Linked DNA regions of Homo sapiens. The protein of the gene in region 2 interacts with the protein of the main gene of each other region in a biochemical or structural test. Each region holds a gene or a part of one and is shown on either strand. Other genes may lie near its edges.

Region 1 (3,824 bases), on a different chromosome or scaffold from region 2:
ATAAATATGTTTCATAATCACTATTAATAGAAATTGAGTTGATGTGATATGTATGAGCATTGGCAAATATTCTTCGTGGACTGGCCTCAACCATTAGATCCATAGGCCTAAAGACTGGCACCTGTCAATAAGACACATGAAAAACAGAAATTACAAAAGGCTCAGTTTCAAATAGCAATTAAGATTCAGAAAACTTCATTATTTCAGTTTTTGAGAACATAAAATAGAACAATATTACATAGATTTAGTTTTAAAAAGCAACTGATGTTGATCCTTTCGAGTGCTGAAGAAAAAATGAACAATGTGGATAATATATCTTCTTTTACTGGTTGCAATACTATTAGAATTTGCAGTTCTTAGTTTCAATATTTTGCTTGAAAGACATGCCAAGCTAATAAATGTTTATGGTTCAGATTAAAGAGGCTAAAAAGAAAATTAACCCATAACATCTAATTCTTGGTATTTTTTAGCTACAACTAGAAGATTTGATCTGTATCTACTTTTTTGATTTCCAAAGAAAATTTATCTTGAAACTTGACCTTGTGATAGCTAACATGACAAACCAGAGATGAAGTCTGATGGCGTGAAATACTGTCTTGTGCTTGAGTCCTGCTTCTGTCCCTGGCCAAAGTGAGACCTCTATGTAGGTCAGTTTCTATGTTTAAATGAGTTACTCAATGTCCTACCTGATTACAGAATTACTGGGAAAGGGGAGATAGACTGTAATTATTCCTATTCAAGCTCTGCTCAGGATTTGGGCTATATAATATGAATACAAGCACTATCTGTGACATTTTTTTCTTATGTACTTACTCGTAGTGTAGTAACTGTAGTAGGATCTCTATACCTTCCATCCTCCTCTTTCAAGTTATACCCTTCTGGTCTTTTGTCCCTTTCACTGATTTTCCATAATTTTATTGTTTTATCTGGGAAGAAAATAAAGAAAAGTCCTTAAAATACTGAAGAAGAAAAACATTTTAAGGCATTTAAAATATGCTATTTCACATTTCACGTAAAAGGATTCCACGAAAAAAAAAAAAACCCTAATCTGAACTTACTAAAAAATTTCCTATTATCAGCTGAATAACATACACACATGGAAATAAAGTGCAAAGATTGGTGGCACTCATAAATTCCATGTGATAGTCAAATCAAGTCACAGACAGGTCTCTATCCCTGTCCCTTAAAAGTAATTAAAGCTAGAGGGAAAAACTTGATATGCATGTGTGGTGTATGCAAACACATATATGTCTGTACCTACATGTAAACATATACATGTTCAGTACTGAATTTTAAAAAATTTAAAGGGAACAATGAAGTTGATTAAGACTGCCTATTATGTAGAATCAAAATAGTAAAGCTGCTCTCCCTTGCTCCCACTTCTTAGCAGAGCCTATCAAAGATTCCACAGAGGCCTCCATAGGACTGGATGCCTCCTTTTTAAAACCTTTCCCCTTCTTGTATCAGGGTTCACAAGTAGGAAACAGGGCCTGAAGAAAACTGATTAAAAGCATACATCCCCAAGTCCTTCAAGAAGAAACCAAATTCCTAGGTATCAAGGATATATAAAATGGCATCTGTTTAAAAACAAACTTTTGTTTTACAATTAAGTTTAGATTTACAGAAAGTTACAAGAATTGCAGTGTTCCATATATCCTTTACCCAGTTTCTTCTGTCAACATCTTACGCAACCATGGTACGTGTGTCAAAACTAAGACGTCGACTTTGTATATTACTATTAACTACAGACTGCATTTGGAGATTTAACCAGGTTTTCCACTAACATTCCTTTTCTGCTCCAGAATTCAAACAACACTGCATTTAGTCATCAAGTTTCCTTAGTCTCTCTGCCTTTAAGTTTCTCAGGCTCTCCTTATTTTTCTTGATCTTGACAGTTTTGAGTAGTGGTGGTGAGGTACTTTGTAGAATATCCCTCAACTGGATTTGCTTGCTCTTTCCTCATGATCAGACTGGGACCATGGGTTTTTAGGAACAGAACAGAGAGATGAAGTGACTTCTCACAGCATTGTTCAAAGGGATACATGGTATCAACATGACTTACAGCTGGTGGCGTTAACTTGGGTCATTTGGTTAAGACAATGTTTGCCAGGCTTCTCCACTATACAATGACTCTTTCACCCTTGCCATATTCTGTTCTTTGGAAGTGAGTCACTAAATCCAGCCTGTACTTAAAGGGAGAAATAAGTTATACTCCCTGTAGGGAAGAGTATGTATCCACGTCTTATTTAGAATTCTCCTGCAGGAAGCATCCCTGCTCTCCATGTATCCATTCAATTGTTTATTTGTATCACTATAGGCTCATGCATGTTGATTTAAAACTGTTACAATTGTATAACAGTTTTTCTTATAGAAAAGCATACATTCCTAACGATCTTTCATAAGCAAAATGGTGTAACAAAATTGTTTATAACAGTATATAAAGCCATTTTATAAAAACAGAAACAACTCAGAGAGATGCCAGTGACTCTAGCCTGGCAGTCTCTGTATCGTACAGAAGAATGATAGTTGCCCCTAAGGATGCCCTTCCCAATGATGAAGTGTAAACAGAGAAAAACTGCTAACTTTAATCATCTGTAATCTATTATTTCTTCTAAGCCCTATGTGACCTTGCTTATAATTTTCTTGTAGTTCAGTCATACAGATTTTCTATGTGTTATTTAGTTTATATATGTATATGATTTATAGATAGATATGAGCCTAGCCTAAATCTGTATTCTGAGAAGTATTTGTTCTAAATACTTGCAAAGTATTTGTGATGAGGATGACAACACCCCCGCCCCCTGGTCCAGTTGTCTTGTGGCCTGTTTAAATCCATCCTCCTTATTAAAGATCCAAATAAAGAAACCACAATGTATTTATGAAACTTTCAGATGAGATAAAATTAGTTTGTGGTGCCTAATAGTGTTTACAGGAAGAAAGCTCTTTAAAAAATGTTTTTTCCTTAACACAAACACAGGACACATATGAATTAGGATACATTTTTCAGTAAGGTGGGGACAAGGCAGGCAGGAAATAAATCAGTATGTTAATAAATATGACATAAATTTTTAAAAAATCAGAATCCTTATGTTCTACAGCAGTGATATTTTATTACCTGGAGTTTTTGGCCCATAAGACAAAGTATGTGAGAATAATCAAACTCCATAAAACTGTATGTGAGATTATGTAAAAACACAGTTTTCAGTGGAGACGTTATTAGATTCTCAAGATCTGTTCCTTCCAAAACGACCACACTGTGGTGTTCCCCTGAATTATCAACACTAATAACTAAAGCATTGGAGAAACTGCAGAAGAACAGAGTTCCTCTCACCACAAGCAGAAGGTATGAGAGGTATGAGCAGGGAAAACCACGCTGCCGTTTCCTTTGTGGGAATGCAGCTTTATGTAAGACCCTAAAAAACTTATCAAGAAGTTGTTAAGACACACCCTATTTATGAGTGAACTTTACATTATTCATATATGTAACACTCATGGTTGACAGGTCAGTTTCATGTTTTCTGCAATGTAGAGGAATTAATGAGAATTCAGAGGAGCAAAAGAAGATTAAAGAGAAAGAGAATTAAAATGCTTGAAGGAACATTAAATTAACTCAAGTTATAAGGTGACTATGACGTCCTTTAAGTAAAAATGATCTGGGAAACCCAGTTCATATAATGATCATGGAAAGCCAATGCAAATATTTTTATAAGATTAATTTTGGTTAATCAAACCTGGAAAGTTTGGTACTATTTTCCATCATTCTCCCACAGATATAGTTTTTATATAGACCCATTATATTGGGGGGGGGGGGTGTTACTATGCTC
Region 2 (3,824 bases):
TAACACAGCAGTTAAAATCAAAATAAAGCTTTGTGTCAATATGGTTCAATCTCAAAAGCATCAAGCAGGCAAAAGCAACAGCTACAGAATGGTACACGCCTTTATTTACCATATCTGTACCTAGGCAGAGACTTTTATTTCAATCCCCTGCTCTTAGCCTCACATCGCATCACACTCTGTGCCTCCAATGCGCATGCCAACCCCAAATCGAGAGCCCCTGGACCAGATGGTTCACAAATGCAGTCCTCTGTCCCCACCCCGAGAACATACCAGGGGCAGCGGCCTCTGCTTTGCTTCATCCATCCTCACTCTTTGAGCTGCTCACCATCTTAACCAACGTGCTGAAGCCTCCACCCACTCACTGCCGTTGCTTATTGGTCTCTTTATGCCTTTTCCTAATCCTTTACTATCACTGAGACTCAGAAGAGAGGACACCTTGAACCAGACGCCTAGCAAAGGAGAACTAAAGAGGCTGACGGAGCTCAGCAAGCTGTTGGCTCTTATCTGTTGAAGATTTTAAGCTATGATCCGGCCTAAATATCCTCATTGAATATTCAATTCTCCAATTCGCTTTCTCCATAAAGCAGAATAACTTAGTGAAAGCTTACAAAGGAGCCAGACTACATTTAAATCTGTGCTGCCAGTCTAGCTCTATGACTTTAGGCAAGTGATTTCACCTCTCTGTACCTCCACCTCCCTGTTGATAAACAGGGTTTCATCCTAGAGGATCAAATGAGTTCTATGTAAAGTGCTTAGAACTGCCTGGCACAGAGGAAAGGCTATGGATTAGCCATAGCTACCAGACCTGAGAGAACAGAACTCTCTAAACCAATCTCTTACAGGTCAACATTTGCCTCATGTCCAGTTTATTTCTATTACTATTACAGGAGTCACTCTAATAAGCATCTATGGCTTTGCCCCTCTCAGCTTACTGGTTGCCATACTTATTTCAAAGTGCTGCCCTTTGGATAAGAAGTAGTAGTAATTTCCAACGCCATCAAAGTATAAAAACAATAGCTGTATCACAGTATTTCCTGCAAGGACTGGGTTGTTTTTGTTTGTTTAAGAGACAGGGTCTCATTCTGGAGCCCAGACTGGAGTGCAGTGGTACAATCAGGGCTCACTGCATCCTTGACTTCCTGGGCTCAAGTGATCCTCCTACCTCAGCCTCCTGAGTAGTTGGGACTACAGGCACAGGCAACCACACCCAGCTAATTTTTAAAATTTTTTTGTAGAGATAGGGTCTCACTATGTTGCTCAGGCTGGTCTTTTAACTCCTGGCCTCAAGCAATCCTCCCACCTCAGCCTCCCAAAATGTTGAGATTACAGGTGTCAGCCACCACGCCTGGCCTTTTATAATGTTACTAATTTCATAGAAATTTAACACTCTTACAATACTAGATAAACATAAATAAAAATATTTTAAATAACTCCCATCAAGAAAGCGTAAATAACTTACTTTGTGATTGCAGCAAAAAAGTTAACCACTGAGGGCAGGCAAATCTTCAGGGGATTTAGCTGGCTCATCACTATCCGCTCAAAATTCAGACTCTGAAGATACTGCAAACCTTTGGTTTAAAAAAAAAAAAGATTTTTTTAAAGGTACAAATAAGTGAAAAGTGTAAGATACTTTTAAAAGCACAAATTATCACACATTTAAAAAAAACTTTAAAAAATTATTTGCAGAAATGCTTTAAATAAAGGTCCATGCAGATAGTCACACAGTATATGGCCCAGAAGAGTATCACTAGGCTAACCACATTCATTGGTCACCAAGGCAGCTTCTCTAAAGAAAACTTAGGAAGTAGCAGGCTGTAAGATTCCACGACAATGTGAAATTCATATGTTTGCAAGCTCAGTGTATGCTGAGATAATACAGAGGGAGAAAAGACCTTGTGATTTGGTTTCAGCTAACAATCATGACAGGCAACAAAACAAAACAGCAATTTGATTCTAGCTTGCATGTCTTGTTAGTGAAGCTGAGTGCTGTTTTCAGGTGCACAGTAGTCATCTGTAGTTTTTTTTCTAAACAAGAAAACTCCAAATTTGCCTTCTACCTCAACGGACGGCAAATTTAGACAGAAACCACTTTCTTAGACTTAATGAATATAATTCTTTTCTACATGAGTAAAATAAAGACATCACATTTATTTTAAGAGGCAAGCTGACCAACTTGTACTTAAGTATATTTTCTTAGGAGTTTCTTTGATACGTATTTCAATAAAAATTACCTAAATGGGATGTCACAGCTTACAAAAACAAGATATTTAATCCAGATTCCTGGCATTAATTTATACAAAGAAAAGCAGAGCTTGTATTTACTTACCTTGTGATAAAACCTCATCCTACTAGTTCATACAACATCTTTTAGAAGCATGTAGGATGTAGGTAAACATATATAATGCAACACATACAACTTTCAGTTTAGAGCTGTGGCTGTTAACCCAAGGAGACTGCGACCCCCGCAGAGGACACCTGGCAGTATCTGGAGACACTTTTAGTTGTCACAGCTGGGGGTGGTCGGGGACTGCTGTTGGCAGCTAGTAGGTGGAGGCTGTTAAACATCCTACAGTGCAGAGGACAGCCCCCGACGATGAAGGATGATGCAGCCCAAATGGCAATCGTGCAGGGTTCAGAGACCCCGGTTTAGAGGAAGTGACCCACAAAACCATAAGAATTATTCATAAACATAAACAGAACAATTTACAATGACTTATAAACACTGTTCTTGGAGACTCTCTTCAACTAAAATACACTAATCTAATAAGTTTCAACTGACAGATTTGAATTATAAGTAACTCTTAGAAATTAGCAAAACAATACTGGTCAATTAAGTCTCAAGGCTTCAGGCAGAGTTTAATCTATATAAACTCAAACTTTAGGGTCAGCCAAACCTGGCTTCAGTTTTCTAATCCTGCCACTAACCATGTGATCTTGGGAAAATGACTTTCCTGTGCTTTAGTGCTGTCTGTAAAGGGAGAATACCTGCCATTTACTGGGCTGTTACAAGGACAACAAAGAGAAGGTGCATCCAACTGAAGCTTTGTACAGGGCGCTGGCACAGCCCAGGGCTCAGCCTCACCTCTGGAGACATCTTCACATTTCAAACTTTCAAAGGCAGAAACCTCTTTCTTAACCTCAAATCCATCTTAAGGGGTTTGTAGGGTTCTCAAGCTCAAATCTATCTTAAGGGGTTTGTAGGGGCCTATGAGCTGCTTGAAATTATTATTAAAAGTTTGAGTGCACATGCAGTTTTCTGAATCCAGTTTTTATAAAAATCTCAAAAAAGTAATGAATCACCATTCTGAAGGGTGACAAGAACACAAGGAAAATCCAGTCCAGCACTCCCACAACACTGACCTTCTTTCAGGTTTCCGCTCAAAAGCTGCTTGTGTCTAAAAACAAAGGTGTAGAACACAGCTTGGCAGGCTGAGTAAAATGGTCCATGGAGAGCAACATCGCAGAATGCCTTTGTTCCCGAATCCTGGTTATTAAGGTATATGTGCAGCCAGTTAACCAAAAGATCTAGGCATGATTTTACAGTACTAGAGAAAAGAAAAATTCAAGTCAACTTTACACATCATAAAAAAACCAGAATAACATAAAAACACACAACTGCCTTTCATTACAAACCATGCTAAGTAAGTTCATAGGTTTCTTTAAATAATACCCATGGGTACAGAGGAAAAGCAAAGAAAGGAAGGATAAGGATGGGTGCGTAGGAAGACAACCTTCCAATTACAAGGCAGAGTAGCTCTGACCTTCTAGGAACAGGTGAGCCCCTAAGAACGTCCCAAGGGATGGAAAGCAGGTTCTCCTAACCA

The links.
Region 1: the proteins of RRN3 (region 2) and PPP2R2A form a complex in vitro, tested with the Homo sapiens proteins (one study listed by BioGRID).

The regions. Positions count from the first base shown.
Region 1 is NC_000008.11:26,357,271-26,361,094, reverse strand, and holds part of PPP2R2A (serine/threonine-protein phosphatase 2A 55 kDa regulatory subunit B alpha isoform), read right to left. Parts: intron 927-3,824; coding exon 814-926; intron 122-813; coding exon 1-121. UniProt on the Homo sapiens protein: Substrate-recognition subunit of protein phosphatase 2A (PP2A) that plays a key role in cell cycle by controlling mitosis entry and exit. Involved in chromosome clustering during late mitosis by mediating dephosphorylation of MKI67.
Region 2 is NC_000016.10:15,066,710-15,070,533, forward strand, and holds part of RRN3 (RNA polymerase I-specific transcription initiation factor RRN3), read right to left. Parts: intron 3,546-3,824; coding exon 3,361-3,545; intron 1,569-3,360; coding exon 1,460-1,568; intron 1-1,459. UniProt on the Homo sapiens protein: Required for efficient transcription initiation by RNA polymerase I (Pol I). Required for the formation of the competent pre-initiation complex (PIC).